2 linked regions of the Homo sapiens genome follow. The protein of the gene in region 1 purifies or fractionates together with the protein of each later gene. This does not show direct contact. Each region holds a gene or a part of one and is shown in the gene's direction. Other genes may lie near its edges.

What was found.
Region 2: the proteins of VWA5A (region 1) and PKNOX2 purify together in Homo sapiens (affinity purification with mass spectrometry; 2 studies listed by BioGRID and IntAct, with this or other methods). This does not show direct contact.

Annotation. Positions count from the first base shown.
Region 1 is NC_000011.10:124,113,237-124,119,331, forward strand, and holds the start of VWA5A (von Willebrand factor A domain-containing protein 5A), read left to right. Parts: upstream 1-2,213; 5' UTR 2,214-2,246; intron 2,247-3,329; 5' UTR 3,330-3,444; intron 3,445-4,130; exon of another isoform or gene 4,131-4,227; coding exon of another isoform or gene 4,228-4,275; coding exon 4,276-4,318; intron 4,319-4,436; coding exon 4,437-4,639; intron 4,640-4,952; coding exon 4,953-5,175; intron 5,176-5,296; coding exon 5,297-5,472; intron 5,473-5,738; coding exon 5,739-5,853; intron 5,854-6,095. UniProt on the Homo sapiens protein: May play a role in tumorigenesis as a tumor suppressor. Altered expression of this protein and disruption of the molecular pathway it is involved in, may contribute directly to or modify tumorigenesis.
Region 2 is NC_000011.10:125,171,251-125,174,750, forward strand, and holds part of PKNOX2 (homeobox protein PKNOX2), read left to right. Parts: intron 1-3,500.

The DNA of each region.
Region 1 (6,095 bases):
TCTCAGAAGAACTGAAGAAAAATAAGTAGCAAACTATGATCAACATAATCAACACACACCGGCATAATTCAGGGCACATGTGTTACAGTGGTGGGCGCTAAAATAAATTGGATATTGTTCTCATAATATGCAGATTTCTATTTCCATTATAAGCAAATGTGCTTTTCATATTCTGAAGAAGATAGTTTCCTTAAAAGTCTACTTTTTAATTAATCATAATCAAATGTATTAGGGTAAGATAAGGACCCAAAGAGCTGTTATAAACCATGGAGAAATTTGTTACTTTATCCTGTAAAATTCTGTGATGATACAGTGGCTTGCTCTATGAGAGTCTCAGGGGCTCAGGATCTTTCTGTCTTGTTGCTTCTCCATTTTTAGGGGAAATGCTCCAGGCTTTATGATCTAGTCTTTATGGTTCAAGCTGGTTCAGTTACCTGCATTCACACCAATGAGCAGGAAGAGGGTAAAGTGAATGGGAAGCCATCCTCTTTTCTTTGAAAGGGCATGACATGGTGTTGCACTTATTTCTTGTACCCTATGGGCCAGAGCTTAGTTACAAGGCCACACCAGCTTTAAGGGAGGCTAGGCAATGTTTTTATTCTGAATGGTCATAGACATTGTGAAACTTGGGGTTCCTGTTAGTATAAAAAAGAAGGTGAGAATCAACCTTGAGGAATGCCTGGCAACACTAAGACAGACTTTTAAGTGAAGATATCTCATCTATATCGGTTTAATTGTGTATATTGTGCTAGGTTATGGGAATTTTCACATAGTTGTTTTTTCAACAACCAGCAACTTCTGTGTGTTTCCTGATTCAGTGCCCTCTAACCACGCTGCATGCCTGGTCTGTGGCAGACTTTTAGTGCTAAGCTCTAAGCCCAGCAGGATCAGATGATGAACTCTGCCCACGTTTCCAGCTCCTCCCTTTTGTTGCTCAGATGTTTCGGCCAATGGAAAGAAGGCACAGTCACAAGGAACAATACCAGACATGATTTCTCTCCAGAGAAAAGGATAATTTCCTCTCATAATTAGTTCAGTACATGTAAAAAACATGGTTGTAGGGCCTAGTACTGATAAAATAGAATTTGTGCTTATATTATGCTTTACTATATATGCATATATTACATGCATGTAACTGTATATACATGCATGGGTGTACATATATACACATATATACATCTATGCATGCACATCCATGTATATAAATGTGTATGTGGGTGTATATATATAAAGTATATAAATGTGTGTGTGTGTGTGTGTGTGTGTGTATATATATATATATATATATATATATAAAACTTTTATAGCCACTAAGATTCATTAGATCTCACAAAAACAATCAGTGGAGGTTTGTCATTATCCCCGTTTCAGATGAGAGAACAAATAACTTGGGGAGAGTTATTTGTATATAACAAATATCTCACAAAAACAAGTATATAACCAGTATATAACAAGTATATCCACAAAAAATACATCACAGAGACCAAAATCAAGCTGTGTTTTCCATATGTATCATGTATTCTTTATCCTATAGATTCTCGACAGCAATATGACACTTTAAGTCTCAGATTTAATAGGTTGTTTTGAAATAGAGAAGCCATGGGGACCTTGATCGCTTCTAATGTCCTTTAGCCAGGTAAATGAGCATAGACATTCTCAGTTACTTACATCGTTAACCCAAACATTTGGTTTCAGGATCCCATAAGCGACCCATGACAGGAAGACTTGGGCTTCCCTGGCTAGAGCTTCTCTCATTAGAGCAGATGTGTGTGCCTTGCACTATCTCCTTATCTTTCCCCCTGCTGTAGGGGAGGGGCAACTTGGGGGAAAATGACTCACATTAGAGATAAGGTGTCAATGATATAATCTCCATAAAGCTTTGATTAACAGGGCCCAGGACACAGTAAGCCTTTGGCAATTAAGCTTTTACAAAAATATGCAGTTTTTAATGTCATTGTTGTTGTTCCTGTTGCAGCATTTTCCCTTGCCCTCTTTGCCTGTTCTCTGATTGTTCCTTAGCAAAGAGCAAAGAAAAAAACCAAACGTTCCAAAGTCGAAGACTTTTCCTTTGATACAAACAAGCGAAAGTTCGATTATTTGTTCAATAATTTTCCGTTGATCCCTTAGTCTTGTAGTCGCTACTTTATAACCGGTCCCTAGAAGGGGGCGGTTCTTTCCGGAAATTATGACTGCAGCTGTTTTCACTCCGCTGTGACTCAGAGCGCTCCGGGCTGCAGGAGAGGAAGGTAGGGGACCAAGCTACCGGTGCAGGGCCTGGATCCAACCCCTGCTCTGGAAGACTGAGAGCTCCACATTCTAGCTCCCTTTCCCCAGTCCCCAAATTTGTAGGGGCTCCTTGAATTGCACGCCCCATGGGTGGAGGATTTCATCCTGATGTATGATCCCCAGGAAGGTTCCTGCAAGTTTGGCAGTTTAGGGGAATCTTTTGGAGGTTGAAGGAGGGATTTAGCCATCTCCTAATCTCAAGGCCCTTCTTCCTACTTTCCTTCTCTTTTACTTTACTTTTTTTCCCGCTTTCTTTCTTTGATATAGACAATTGATGTTTTCTCAGTTTCAGGATAGTGTAAGCTGAGGAAATGAGGCTGTAAGCCTCATCTACTCCAATCAGTTGCAGCCCCTAAGCCCTTCTCTATAGAAATGTAAGAGACCGACGCAGTCTCTTCTGTAAATACGTGGACATTGGAAATCTAGGACTGAATGGAAAGGTTAAATCAATCTCTGATTTTATCCAAGCCCCACTTCTTACCCCAAATCTCCTCCTTGTCTGGTTCCGAGTTCTCCACTTCACCCCTGCCACAGGCCGCAGGGGTGTGTGTGGCCGGTGGTGCCACCCAGCTCCCCTCCCACCCTCCTAGCTGCTGAGCGGCTGGTGCTGGGACTCTGCATTCCTGAAGCAGCTACCTGGCTAGGCCGGAAGCCTTGTATTCTCCCAGCTGCCTCAGATTCATGGCTTTCAGCTTGGTGGCCAGTCTCTACCTAAGCCTTGCAAGTTGCCTTTCTGAAGTGCCATCCTGAGAGACAGAACTAATTCTGACCCAAACTAATTTTGTTTGTACTGGGAAGAGTGGGGGCAAGGGTGCAGAATAGCAAGTTTTCCTCAACGGAGGATTTGTTCTGAGCTTAGAATCAGGAAGCGAAGGCTATTTCCTTGTAGGGGTGCCCTTTGCGTCTCTCTCTCTTTTACTCTAGCCACCTTGGTGAGTATTGCCCAGCCTGAGAGCTTCTCTTTCAGCTGTTTTACTCCTGTGTGAGTCTCCTGCTTTAGGCTCTCTGCTTAATGTGTTATTAGAAATTCTTCCCTCCCCCAGCCCAGCCTGTTCTACCAGAGAACTTGCCCAGGTCAGAGGTCTGCGTAGAAGCCCTTTTCTGAGCATCCTCTCCTCTCCTCACACCTGCCACTGTCCTCTGCGTTGCTGTCGAATTGTGAGTCATTTTGCCACACTCAGTTTTTATCCAATTTCTCAAAATAAAAACAGATATGGAATGAAAAGCCTGATTTATTGGTGCTGTTTAGTGGGGGTGCAAATGTAGGCTATGTGCCTATATAATATTTAAATATATTAGAATATCTTGGATGGATACAAACAAATATACTCGTATCTTTTAATTTTGGGTCCCAAAAGAAAAGCCACAAGGTAAATGGCCTGTGGCAGGAGTCCATCTTGAATCACACAGCTTCTCACATGCAGCGCGTCTCTGAATGCCATGATCCAAAGTGAATGGTGGCAGAGGTTTATTGATTAACAGTAACAACAATAATAGGGACAATAGTGATGTCTGTCATCATTGATTAAATGCCTCCTATGGCCCATGTGCTATTGTAGGGACTTCACATGTATTAATTCACATACGATGTGTGGATATTATACTACTCATTTTGGAAAGAAAATACTGAGGCTCAGAGGGATTAGTGACACCTACTCCATATGCCCAAGGAGTGGTGAATTAAATACACTTTTGAGAAAGTGGAATTGGTATTTGAACCAGCCTCAGGGTGTTTCAGAGATTTCCTGTTTAGTAGATACCAGTGAATCTTACACCTTCCCCACCTGGGACTGCCATTTAAAAGGACCCTTATGACTGAAATCTTTGTCTCCTTTTTTTTAAAGGTTCCAACTTCCTAACTCCAACATTAACCCTTTGAATGTATTCTTATGCCAGAGAAAGGCACATAAAGTACTGGTGTTTGAACAGATAACTTCCAACATGTCCTCTGTTTGTGATATGTCTTTTCTGCAGAAATCTTGCATCACCATGGTGCACTTCTGTGGCCTACTCACCCTCCACCGGGAGCCAGGTAAGCCTAATTTGTGACTCTTACTTGCCATTGAATCTTTGGCACCTATCACAAGGCTTGATCTACAAGGAGGCAATCTATTGAAGCTTGATGAACTTGAACTCTGGTCTATCTCCAGTGCCGCTGAAGAGTATCTCTGTGAGCGTGAACATTTACGAGTTTGTGGCTGGTGTGTCTGCAACTTTGAACTACGAGAATGAGGAGAAAGTTCCTTTGGAGGCCTTCTTTGTGTTCCCCATGGATGAAGACTCTGCTGTTTACAGCTTTGAGGCCTTGGTGGATGGGAAGAAAATTGTAGCAGAATTACAAGACAAGATGAAGGTAGTAGAGATTACCTCCTCCCTTCTTATTACATTACCTCCTCCCTTCTTATTTCCTTAATGCATACTCTTTATGATCTCTACTAAATGTACCTTCACAAAACATGCTGATGTTGAAAGCTCTTTCTTCCACTCTTTTCTAACTGCCATTTTTCTAAAATCATTTGGGGAAAGAAATCAATCAGAGGCATTCAGAGTATAGCTGTGATTAGACAAGACCAATCACACAGTCGCTCTGCACTGCTCGTCTCTTTTTCAGCCATGTCACCTTGGATGTTCCCTTTCTTTCCCATCCCTCGCCCTGTGCTTCTCAGGCCCGCACCAACTATGAGAAAGCCATCTCCCAGGGCCACCAGGCCTTCTTATTGGAGGGGGACAGCAGCTCCAGGGATGTCTTCTCTTGCAATGTGGGTAACCTCCAACCTGGGTCGAAGGCGGCAGTCACCCTGAAGTATGTGCAGGAGCTGCCTCTGGAAGCAGATGGGGCTCTGCGCTTTGTGCTCCCAGCTGTCCTGAATCCTAGATACCAGTTCTCTGGTGAGTACCTCTCCCCTTTGAATTCTAGTGGTGGGTGACATAAATGGGGAAATTTTCTTAAGGTTGAGAGTGTCATAAAAAGTGTTGGCAAGGAAAACAGAACTAAGGTCATCTTTTATAGGGTCGTCTAAGGACAGTTGCCTTAATGTGAAGACTCCTATAGTCCCTGTGGAGGACCTGCCCTACACACTCAGCATGGTCGCCACCATAGATTCCCAGCATGGCATTGAGAAGGTCCAATCCAACTGCCCCTTGAGTCCTACCGAGTACCTAGGAGAGGACAAGACTTCTGCTCAGGTAGTTAATGAGAGAATACTGCTATTGTCAGTACCTCTGTTGCTTGAGTCTTGACTTGGTCCCCAACCAGTTCTTCCCAAGTGGTAACCCAGAGGGGGTCCCACATGCTCCTTGCATATCGTCATTTAATCTCCAGAGCCTTCTCTCCAGCCTCACCTCTGTTCCTAGTCATGCTGTCTTATGGAGGAGGACTGCGCCCTAACCTCAGCCCCAAGAAGCAAGAAGTTATGATTCTAATGTGGCTCCTTTACCTGTCCTCCACTCAGGTTTCCCTGGCTGCTGGACACAAGTTTGATCGGGACGTGGAACTCCTGATTTACTACAATGAGGTGCATACCCCCAGCGTGGTTTTGGAGATGGGGATGCCTAACATGAAGCCAGGTATTTTCTTTCTTCCTTTGTAGTCATCCCCTAAGGGGCAACTCCCTGTCTTGGAATTACTGTCGAATTACTCTCTTTTCTTTCCTTCCCTCCAGGGGTGGTTAATACATGTGAAACACTGAAATAGTTTACACTATGTCATGCAAAAATGGTTAGGTTTAATGACTGTCATGTGATATGTCTTGTAGGCAAATTTAAGTAGATCAGTAGATAATTGGGCAAAAGCCAGGAACAGATAATTT
Region 2 (3,500 bases), 1.1 Mb from region 1:
TGTTCTTCCATTCAGCAAATATTTATAGAGCATCTTCTGTGTCCCCGGCACAGTCCTAGGCATTGAGGAGACAGCAGCAAAAACAAAGCCAAGACATTGCCATGAAGCCTGTCCTCAAGGAGCTTGCTTGTGGTGGGGGCGGTGTTGAGTATGGGCTTTATTTAGCATCAGGCAAAACTTCATTTAGAGCCTAGCCCTGCTCTTTACCTGTCATATGGATCTAGACAAGTTGCTTAACATCTTCGATCCAGTTACCCCATTTGTAAATTGGGAAGTAAAAGCACATAGCTCACAGGACTGTTGAGGGGCATCTGTTAAGTCCCTAGCACGGTGTCTGGCACAGAGGAGAGGCTCAGTCATGGTTGACTCTCCTCTGTCATGTTATGTTGGAGCTGATGATCCAGTTGGAGGATTACCCCTTTCCCTTTCCTTTTGCTTCCCCAGAACCTGGCTTGGGCCCTTTTCCAGGTCACTGGCGTCTTCAACCAGCGTTGCACAAATAGCCAGTCAATGCTGTGGCCTGGTGCTGCCTGCTGTGCACAGCCCTGGCAGAGGCTGCAGTAGAAAACAGGTACACAGACCCTGAGGACACTTTGGGGATGAGGGGTGTCTGGGGTTAACAGTAGAGAGGGCACATACAATACACAGACCTGAGAGATGATGGACAGAGAGGTGACGTGGAAAAAGCCACCAACCAGGTGTTAACCACAGGAGACAACAGTGGGGCAGGATGTGGAGTGACCAGGACAGAGTGGAGTCACAGGGCAGACTTCTGGGAGGAAGGGAGCCTCTGCAGAGTGTTAGAGGAGGACTGGCTGAGCGGCTGGCCAGTGGGGGCATGAAACATGAGCCTCCTAGGTCATGGTGCTCTGCGCTGTCCTGGGGACTGCAAGGGAGCAGCCTGGACTAGAAGGAGGAGCTTAGCCCCCTCTACCTATCCCAGGTGGCCAGAAGTGGGCTGTCCCTGCCCCAGGAGCACCAGGTAAGGCCTTGTTGTTTGGGTCCAGTTTCCCTTACACACTGAGGGATTTCCGAGCAGACCTTTCCACGTTGGCTTCTCAATGGGTAGAACTTAGACCAATGAGTTGGTGCATGAGGCAAACAAATCACTTCACTCCTGGTTGCAACATGGCTTTCTTACCTAAGATCCCCTTTTTCCCTAAGCAGAGAGAGCAGAGACTATAGGCCCACATCCAGCCCTCTTCCATCTCAGGAACCATGAAGCTGATTGATATCAGGGTGATCGGGATGGTGGAGAGAAAGGGGGGACTGGTAGTCTGAGCATGGTGGATTCCACTGTGGACTCAGCCACTGACTGACTGTGTGACCTTCAACAAGGGACTTACCTTCTCTGGATGTCAGTGTCCTCACTTATCCAATGAGGAGCTTGAACTTGCTCTCAGAGGTCCCCTTCTACTCAAAGTTCCATGATTCCATATTTCCTCCCAATTGGATTGCTTCGTGGCTTTGTGGCTAGGCAATCATTAAAACCACCGCCACCGCCACAAATCCGAGCAAAGAATCATGATGACATTCAACAGACTGCAGGGGCTTGGCCCCTGTGGTATAGAGTCTTAAGGACAGTGGGGGCCTAGGGGTTGGTTCTGACCCTTCTGATGGCCTGCCTGGGACAAATGGATGTTCCTAGCGATAGGGGATGGCTCCATGAGGCAGCAATTTCAGTCTGAAAACTCACTGGCTTCTTCATAAAAAGCAGCATTTACTTTTCTTGTTGAGACAGCGTGGGGCTAGGGGAAGGAACACAGGCTTTGGAGTCAGATTCTGGGTTCTGACCCTGGTTCTACTACAGCTAAGCAGTGTGCACATCACTTAACCCCTCTGAGCCTCCGTTTTCTTGGCTTTATAGGTGAGGATAATAATACTACCAAGCATATTTAAGACTGCTGTGAAAACTCTGGAAGAAAACATCTGTAAGTGGTTGGCACATGGCAAGCTCATGTTGAATAAATATTAGTCTTCTGTCCTAATAAAGCTCATTCTCACATGCCCTTGTGTGATCCTCTTAGCCTTGTGAAGCAGGTAAAATGGGCATTGTATCATTTTATAGGTAAGAGAAACTGGGGCTCAGAGAGTGGCTAAAGTGGCAGGTCCAGGAAGTGGGTGCAGGTGTGTCTGTGTGTAGCAATGGAGCACATTATTTAGGGTAGCCCAGGCTTATCTTCTATGATGATGGTTCTTCCTTTAGCCTTCTGGAGACAACACAAGCCATTCCTGAGCTCTACCTAGTCCTCTCCCAAGATCTTTCATAAAAGAACCAGCTAAACTCATCTCCTCCATTACTCGAATCTTTGGCAAATGCTGGGAAGAGCTACTGTTGTGAAAACCAAAGTCTAGAAGATCTGTTTTTTACTTCCACAAAGTCTTCAGTCTCAGGTGGGGCTGGGAGGGCCCGCACTAAGAGGCAGAGGTAGATTTAGGAGCAGGGGATATCTCATGGCTATGAGTGGGGGCAGCGAGGCTGCAGTGTGGCCTTGGTCTGCCAGCCCAGGTGTAAGCTGGACCCCTGGGTGGAAAGAATTCCCTCGGGGGCTCGTGCCCGTGGTCATCAGCTCACAATCCAGACAGATGTCAAGCCGACAAACACCAAGGGGAGTTTAGCCCGTTAGTGGTAGCATCTGTCTAATTCCTATTAGGTAAGGGGAGGGCACAGGCTCTCTGGGTTCCAGCGTAGCACAATGGGTCTGTGCTGGAGTAGTGGCAAGTGAGCCCTACCCCAGAGCTTCCCCTCACGGTCCTCAGTCCACAGTGCATTGTTAAGGAATGGATGCTCCTCTGTACCAAGTCCTGTGCTAGGTCTAAATGTGATGTGACCCCTCCTTCTGAGGAGCTGTCCTGCCTTCCTCCCAGGAGACCTTCCTCTGTGGAGATTGTCAGTTCTATCTCCAGGTCCAGGGCAGGGAGACAGACGCCCAGAGAGTCAAGTGTATGCCCCGGGCCCAGGGGCGACAGGTGCTTGTTCTCATTCTCATTTCCTCCCTAAGAATCCACCTGTCAACAGGTGTGGCCTGAACCCACTATTTAATTAGTGCCCATTAGCATGCTGTGGGGAACACTCAGTGGCCTCATCCTCTAGGAGCTACATATTTTTGATGAGGAGACCAAACAAAACGCATGTGAAATTGAGAACAAGCTATATGACCTTGACTCATCTCTTAACTTCTCTGGATTTCAGAATCCTCATTTTATACAATGAGCAGGTTATCCTTGGCTCTCTTCAAGCCCCTTTCAAGTCTATTCTCCTACGACTGTCTGGGCTGTACATGCGAGGTCCATCAGGCACCATGAGTTTGTAGAAGGTGATAGGACACCAGAGAACACCTAGCCCAGCAGTGGGAAGGCTGTCTACCTGTAGGCAGGTGAGTGGGTGGGAAGATATATTGCAGAGGTAGCTGGCCTCATTTATTTGTCTGCAGGGGCCGGGAGAGTGCTTGTTGAGAGGGACCCTGCAGAGTCCCCCAGCTTCCAGGAGGGTCAGGGGG